Regions from separate parts of the Homo sapiens genome. Here region 2 is linked to region 1. Evidence: fine-mapped expression QTL. A gene starts in region 1. The other region holds a variant in brackets. All regions are shown on one strand. Distances are from middle to middle.

Region 1 (4,402 bases):
TATAGTGAGCTTCTGCTTTTAATATAAAATATACTACCCGTTGTGATGAAAGGAAAAAGAGTTAGAAAAATCCTGTCCCTGCCCAACCCTGAGTGGTTTTATCACTTAGATCTCCACATAGTTTTTGACAATTAGGATAACAATTTTTGAGTGAAAGATAATGTTCTGAGCACAATAGAAAAAAAGGGACATATACAGACACGTGCAATCATCTTTATTACCTGTCACCTCTTCTGTGAAGCCCTGCTTATCCTTTTTTGGAGCAGTCAGAGGCCATGTCTTTTTCTTAACCATTCCTTCCTCTGTAATCCCATATTAATGAGTCCATTCTCTATTATAGCGTGATAACCTAAATGAGAGAGAATTGTATTCTTACTTGGTTAAATGGTGGGCAGGGTTCAGGTCATTTCATCTGTATGTTCCCAGAGAATGGCACAACACCTAGCACAGAAAATGCATCCAATCAATATTTATTGAATGAAATAATGCATTTAAAAATGACTGCAAATGTCAGCATCTAATTGCTTAAGATGATAGTTTAAAACTCAAGGGTGTAGTTTATACTTAAAACATGAAATGAGATCTTTAAAGTAAACCAATGTATTTTCAAAATCCTTAGTATCACAGGTTTTCTCATAGCTTTCAGAAAATAACTTCCATGCAAGATGATTTTACATTGTTTTCTGTTGATGCTTTAAAATGGCAAGGAGACAAGAAGGGGAAGTGTTCAACTGGGCTGCATGTTCCATTGTGATTTTATCAACAAAACATTATTACTGTATATTTTCAGTCTAGACATAGACATAGATCCAACAGTGCCTGTGAAATGATTATTATCATCTATGGAATGTTATTATCATCAATAATGTTTAGTTAAGAGTTTCAGCTTTTAAAAACTGTTACAGGGATTATCTCATTTAATCCTATAGCTGCTATATGTAGTGGGTACTATTCATATCACCATTTTATAGATAAGAAGAGAGGCTTAAAGAAGTTAAGTAACTTCCTTACAACCAAAATGTGACTGAATGAGAATTCAGGTAAAAATTTCCCCAAAATATTATTTATCCAAATATCTGTAACATGCTACTAAGTGCATCAGTCAGAAAATTTGTATAGCTTGATTAGCTCTGAGGTTCTCGAAGGTTGGAAATCATATATTATTTACCTTTGTATTACCAACACCAGCATTAGACACAGAATGACTAATCTATTAGACATTTGTTAATGAATGAAGTAATCTCCTTATGGGATAATAATAGTAACAATGAGAAGAAAAATAGAAATTCACAAAGTGGTGCTCTGCTTTCAGTGAGTTTTCATGAAAAGTTTAATGGTAATGAACGTTCATAAATTTGTCCAAGGTTAGAATATATTAATATGCAAATATTTAATTTGACATTTCATAAAAGAAAATTAAATAAGATGTGCAGCTAATTTATACAATTTTTTGATAAAAATACAGGGACAAGCACCCCAGATGCAGAAACATTTTAATCTCCTTGGAATTTTTGGGAGTAATATTGAGGTTGAGAACTGTATGGTCCGCCACATAAGATTTACAATCTGCAGGGTCCCTCCTTTATAAGGCCAGCCGTGCTTGTGTTCAAGGACAAAAGTTTAGCCAAATGACTTTAATCATTAGGACCTCATTTCCTGTCTGAAACAGATGAGCACCAATTATCTGCAAGATATTTTATGGTATACATGGTTAATGATTTAAGAAGTTATTTGCCAGAATATTTGAAATAAATTTACAAAATACACTTTAAGTATTGATTGAAATTAATCAACTTTTTGAAAGATACTAGGCCTGCAACAGAAGTCACGGTGAGGGTTGAGGAAGGCTAACTATTGTCACTTCTGTAGCTGAGGATAAGGCAATAAATTACTCTCTTAATTTTTAAGAAGAAAAGGCATTTTTACCATCTATGTTATTCTATGTAGAGTAGAAATTCTGGTACATCCAAAATATTAAAATTGTTTGTCTAAGAGATATTTACCAAGATAAAGACAAGAAGACTTTTTACAGAAAAAGAAATGCATCATTTTCTTCGAAATAACATTAGAGGAAAAAACCTGTGAGACATGAACAAAGACCTACTATAATGAAAAACATATTTTAAACAATAACCATTCAAATATAGTTTAACACTTAAATAATGTTCACTTTGACCAGTTTGAAAGAAGACTCTGTTTTCATTTTGGAAAGCAGTTCCAACAGGTTACCTAACAATTTGACATTTTTCTTAAAATCGCAAATTGTTGAGAAACTTCAGGAATTTTCAAGTAAGAGAATGCCCTGCTGTTTGGAAACAAGGTAACAGCAAAGCATAATCATATTGTAAAGAAACATTAACATCACTCTCAGTTTGTAAATTGGGTTTCCCCCTTACAGCTACGTAAGGCATTTTTTTCTAAAAACTGTAGTAAGATAAAAATCATTGATTAATTAAAGACAAACTTGTTTCTTATAGTGTTTAATCATCCAAATACCTTAAATCAGGTTCTTACTTACCTCAAGATTGGTGTGTCAAGCTCTCTCTTTTGTTCTTTTGGTTATGTTTTAAACCTGCATTGGGTTAGAACTTGTTCCTCTTTTTCACTTTGGTGGGTTACTTCCTTCTTTCCCTCCTTCGTTCACGCTATTTAATACTTGCAAAGTTTCCTGGCTCTAGAGGAAGTCAGTATCAGATGCAGCAGAATTAAGATAAATGGCGTGAGGTTTTGAATAAGGAAGTCTGGCCCTTCATCTTTGTCAAGTAATAGTTTTTTAACTGTGTCAGAAAATAATACGTAAAGCCTACATGGTTTTTTATTTGGGCCATATTTGCAGTTCCCACTTTAATATCAATAAAAGTCACTTCACTTGTACTTTGATTTTTTAAAAAAAGAAATATTTTAATTGTAGTAACACATAGGTCTTGGGCTTTTATTATTATTATTATTATTTACTTGTGTTGCTAGACCAGTCCTCTCTTCAAATATTAATATTATGTACCAATGCTCCCAAGTTATAGCCATACAGGTCAAATCAGTGTCCCAATTTGGGTTTGGAAAATGTTAACGTTCTTTTAAATTTATAAATAGGAATTTCCTAAGGTATGTTTTGAGGCCCATTACCCCTGAGATATGCTAGCAGCTCTTCCATCAAGTAAATGTGGGGAATACTGCTTCCCTGGAGATTCATGGGTACATCAGCATGCTAAAGGCTCTCAGCAGTCTTACAGCCAGCAAACAAAATAAAACCAAATAAGAAAAAGAAATTGTTTAACTTTGCTTAATAATAGTAGTCAGTATGTTCCTAGCACTAAGTACTCCAAACCTTTTGTGTAATACTCAGCAAATCTTGGCAACAACCCTGTGAGGGAGAAAAACTGTTATTAGTCCTATTTTACAGAAGAGGAAACAGAAGCACACAGAATGATCACTTGCCCGACAGAGCCTGCAGTTTGCCCCCAGCACCTGTGTGCTAAACCACTGCACTGGCTGCCTTGCTAGATTGAGTAACATGTTTCCCACATAGATACGCTTACCAAGAGCATCTCTTGGAGTCCAACTCATGGGAACACACACAGTGGGAGATGCTGAATTAGACAAATTACAGATGAATTCGACAGATGAGATGACAAAGTAATGGAAAATTTGTCTTTTAAGTTGTCTTGGAACTTTTTGAACCACAGAGGATTAACTTTGCATAAGGTGGTTTTAAAAAAGAGGATTTAGTTACTGAAATAACTACTGGACATTGGAAGGACAGGACGTATTATTAACACTTGCTGAGCACTGACATTATGCCAGGCATTGTGCTAAGAGATGAGGATGCAAGAGTGAATAAGCTCCCTGCAGCACTTAAAGCCAAGTAGAGAGGCTGCTGCGCCCACAGAACATTTCAGATCAAAGTGATAATGCCTAAGAAAGACAGGATTATGGACAGGGACAGTGGAGGTAAAGGAAAGAGGCATCCAGCTCAGAGGGTGGTCAGGGAAGGCAAGACCTGAGCTAAGCCTCATAGAATAAGGTGTTAAGGCAGAATAGGGGTGTCCTGGACAAAAATCTTACAGTGAAGGAGGTTATGAAGTTGTGAAGCTATGAACTTGATGTGCTCCACATTCTCACCACTATATTTAACTTCAGTATTAGCCACCCCTCCAAATAATATACACACTCACCTGCCTAGGCATACATCTGTAAGAAAGGCAATTTATACAATGTTTGTATAAAATTATGATTTTCTCTAGAAGGCAGGACAACTGGTGCTCATTCAGCTTTTGCCCTTTGAAGTTAAAAAAGTTGCTTAACCCCTTATTACTTTAGTTTTTCTAACGGAAAATAAAATGGAGGGAAAATGACTGGCACTTTCCTCAAATAGAATTTTTTTGATGTAATGGATATAATTATT
Region 2 (4,402 bases), 23 kb before region 1:
TTGGCTGGACATGAAATTATTGGTTGGAAATCCTTTTCTTTAAGAATGTTGAATATTGGTCCCCAATCTCTTCTGGCTTGTATGGTTTCTGCTGAGAGGTCCACTGTTAGTCAGGTGGGTTTCCCTTTGTGGGTGACCTGGCCTTTTTCTGTGGCTTCCCTTAACATTTTTTCTTTCATTTTGACCTTTGAGAATCTAATGATTATGTGTCTTGGGGTTGGTCTTCTCATGGAGTATCTTACTAGGGTTCTCTGGATTTCCTAAATTTGAATGTTGGTTTTTCTTGCTAGTTTGGGGAAGTTTTCCTGGATGATATCCTAAAGTATGTTTTCCAACTTGGTTCTGTTCTCCCCATCTCTTTCAGGTACCCCAATCAGACCAATATACAGATTTGGTCTTTTTTCATAATCCCACATTTCTCAGAGGTTTTGTTCATTGATTTTTATTCTTTTTTCTCTATTCTTGTCTGCCTGTCTTATTTCAGAAAGACAGTCTTTAAGCTCTGAGATTCTTTCCTCTGCTAGATCTATTCTGCTATTGATACTTGTGATTGCATTGTAAAGTTCTTGTGTTGTGCTTTGAGCTCCATCAGGTCAGTTATGTTCTTCTCTAAAGTAGCTATTATGGTTTTCAGCTCCTGTATTGTTTTATCATGATTCTTAGCTTCTTTCCCTTGGGTTACAACATGCTCCTTTAGCTCAGCAAAATTCCTTATTACCACCCACTGAAGCCTACTTTTGTCAATTCAGCCATCTCAGCCTCAGCCCAGTTCTGTGCCCTTGCTGGGGAGGTGTTGTGGTCATTTGGTGGAGAAAAGGCACTCTGGTTGTTTGAGTTTTCAGTGTTTTTGTTTTGATTTCTTCTCATCATCGTGGGCTTATCCACTTTTAATCTTTGATGTTGCTGACTTTTGAATGGGGTTTTTGTGAGGTCTTTGTTGTTGTTGTTGTTTTCTTTTTTTGTTTGTTTTTCTTTTAACAGTAAGGTCACTGACTGTTAGCAACCATAGGGCTGCCGTGGTTTGCTGGAGGTTCCACTTCAGACCCTAGTTGCCTTGGGTTTTCTGATACCTGGAGCTATCACCAGTGAAGCCTGAGAAACAGCAAAGATCATAGCCACCTGTTTCCTCTGGAAGCTCCATCCCAGGGGTGTAACTGACCTGTTGTTGGCTGGAACTCTCCTGTAGATGTCTGGAAACTCCTGTTTGGGAGGTCTCACCCAATCGGGAGGAACGGAAGAGGGACCCTCTTACAGAAGCAGTCTGGCTGCTTTCAGTAGAGCAGGTGTGCTGCACTGGGGGGACCCTTCCTCATCGAGACCACCTGGACTCTCCAGAGTCAGCAAGTTGGAACAGTTGAGTTGACTGAACTGCAGAGATGGTGGCTGCCTCTCCCACTGGGAGCTCAGTTCCAGGAGAGATCACAGTTCTGTCCATATAAGCCTGACTTGTAACTGAAGGCCCCACCACAGGGAGGCCCCTCCCAAAGGGGAGGAATGGATTGGTGTCCTGCTTACAGAAGCAGGTGGAGCATAATCTGGCAAAGCAGGTGTGCTGCATTGTGGGGGACTCCTCCTCATCTGGACTACCTGGATTCTCCAGAGCCAGGAGGCTGTAATGCTGAGTCCACTGAACCACAGAAATGGTGGCCACCCCCCTCCCCGGGAACTCCCTCCCATTTCAGGCAGACTCAGCCTTTTGCCATTATCTGATTGGAAGTCCAAGCCGGTGGGTCTTAACTTGAGGTGCTGTGGAAGTGGGCCACAGAACAATGCTGCTTGGCTCCCTGGATTCAGCCACCTTCCTAGGGGAAGGTACAGATGAATCTGCCACCTTGCTGGGAATCCGAGGCCAGAGTATGTAAAACTCCTGGGTCTCTGTGTGTGCCTGAGTAGATGCTCTGCCAAAACTCCACACAGCTCTGTGTATCGGACCCAAGACCCTGGTGGTGTGGGCTCAGGAGGAGATCTCCTCATCCATTGGTTTCAAAGATCTGTGGGAGAAG[T/C]GTGGTTTCCCAGGCAAGGTCACACAATCATTTACCACTACCCTTGGCTGAGAGGGCTTCCTTTGGCTCTGTGCTGCTTCCAGGTAAACTGTTGCCCTACACTGCTTTTCTTTATTCTCCTTGGATTCAGTTGATTGCCTAGTCAGTCCCAATGCGAGAACCTGGATATTTCAGTTGAAGGTGATAAATTTACTCACCGCTTTCATTCCTCTCCATGATTGCTGCAGACCATAGCTGCTTCCGATTGGCCATCTTGTAAATAAATCTTCTAAATAAATTTTAAATAATTAAAATGTGCAAAATTTTGGGAAAATAAAATTTAAAAAATTGATCATTGCTCCCTAAAGAAATAATGTTTATGCCACATCACAATGTAACATCTTAGTGCTCTAGAGATTTTTTTTCATTAATTATCCACATGAGGCAGAAAATGAAATATCATAGTCCATTAAATTGTGTGACAGTTCACAAGTGCATGTAATAATGTAAACTCTTCATATTTTTATTAAAAGAGTAACAATCTATGAGCTTCATCTTCTACTAATGTGATTTGCCCCTAATGTGTGAGTTATGTTCTTTCTGGTGTCAAGAGCTGAAAGTGGGAATATGGAACAGGGCTAAAAGAAAAACTTCAGTATAAATTCTATTGTACCTTTTGAATTTTGAACCATATAAGTATATTATTGGGTGAACACGCCCCCAATATTTCAATGTAGGTTCTTTCTATTTTCCATAAGTGTCAGCCAGTCTGAGAAATAAAGAGAAAGAGCACAAAGAGAGGAATTTTACAGCTGGGCCACCGGGGGTGACATCACATATTGGTAGGACTGTGATGCCCACTTGAGCTACAAAACCAGCAGGTTTTTATTAAAGATTTCAAAAGGGGAGGGGGTGTAATTACAGGGAGTAGGTCACAAAGATCACATGCTTTAAAGGGCAAAATCAGAAACTCCTAAGGGTCTATGTTCAGTGGTGCATGTATTGTCTTGATAAACATCTTAAGAGAAAACAGGGTTTGAGAGCAGAGAATCGGTCTGACCAAAAATTTACCAGGCTGGAGTTTCCCAATCCTACTAAGCCTGAGGGTACTGCAGGAGACCAGAGTGTATTTCAGTCCTTATTTCAACTGCATAAGACAGACATTCCCAGAGCGGCTGTTTATAGACCTCCCTCTGGGAATGCAATTCTTTTCCCAGAGTATTAATATCAATATTCCTTCCTAGGAAAATAATTTAGCAATATCTTCCCTACTTGCATGTCCATTTATAGGCTCTCTGCAAGAAGAAAAATATGGCTCTTTTTCCCGACTCCACAGGCAGTCAGACCTTATGGCTGTCTTCCCTTGTTCCCTAAAATCGCTGTTATTCCGTTCTTTTTAAAGGTGCACTGATTTCATATTGTTCAAACACACATATTTTACAATCAATTTGTACATTTAACGCAATTATCACAGGGTCCTGAGGTGACATACATTCTCAGTTTATGAAGATAACAGGATTAAGAGATTAAAGTAAGACAGGTGTAAGAAATTATAAAAGTATTATTTCAGAAGTGATAAATGTCCACGAAATCTTCACAATTTATGTTCCTCTGCTGTGGCTCCAACCGGCCCCTCTGTTCGGGGTCCCTGGCTTCCCGCAATGATATATAACAATTAAAATTTAAAATTTAATCTCTTAAAATGTCACTTTTTAGTCAATTGATGTATAATGATTCTTGTCATGTTACATAAGTGTTAGTTATTATTATGAAGTGAATGAAGTAGTCTGACCAATGGGGTACTGGCCTTGAAGAAAGTGACAGAATAGCCTAAACAGATACCTGGGGCAGAACATTCCAGGAAGAGGAAATAATTAGTTAAAAGGTCTGAAAGACACTATTCTTCAATGTGTGAGGTCACTTTTAGAAATGAGATTATGGTGAGTTCCTTAAAAATGTTGTATCAGTTTGTTTACACACTGTTGATAAAGACATACCCCAAACTGGGAACAAAAAGAGGTTTAATTGGACTTAAACAGTTCCACATGGCTGGGGAAGCCTCAGAATCATGGCGAGAGGTGAAAGGCGCTTCTTACGTGGTGGTAGCAAGAGAAAAATGTGGAAGAAATAAAAGCAGAAACCCCTGATAAACCCATCAGATCTCGTGAGACTTATTCACAATCATGAGAATAGCATGAGAAATACCAGCCCCCATGATTCAATTACCTACCCCTGGGTCTCTCCCACAACATGTGGGAATTCTGAGAGATACAATTCAAGTTGAGATTTGGGCAGGGACACAGCCAAACCATATCAAATGTCCATTAAAAGTCATTGTCATGCAGATTGCCACCCAAGTATCCAATAGGATGATTTTATAACATTGCAAAGTAATGTAAAGTAAGTACTTTTGCTTTATT

Evidence for each region. PIP is the estimated chance that this variant, and not a neighbour inherited with it, causes the effect. A credible set is the group of variants that fine-mapping cannot tell apart.
Region 2: its variant is the best candidate, but not a certain one, in a credible set for the expression of GAPT in monocytes (TOPMed, PIP 0.54).

Annotation. Positions count from the first base shown.
Region 1 is chr5:58,489,658-58,494,059 of GRCh38, reverse strand. It overlaps GAPT (GRB2 binding adaptor protein, transmembrane), which reads right to left and starts at 2,625. Exons shown (of 3, transcript NM_001304431.2): 1 at 2,519-2,625; 2 at 222-349.
Region 2 is chr5:58,512,654-58,517,055 of GRCh38, reverse strand. No RefSeq gene overlaps it. Among named protein-coding and RNA genes, the nearest start is that of MIR548AE2, 15 kb to the left of the region's middle. The variant T/C (reference allele first, on the strand shown) is at 2,004.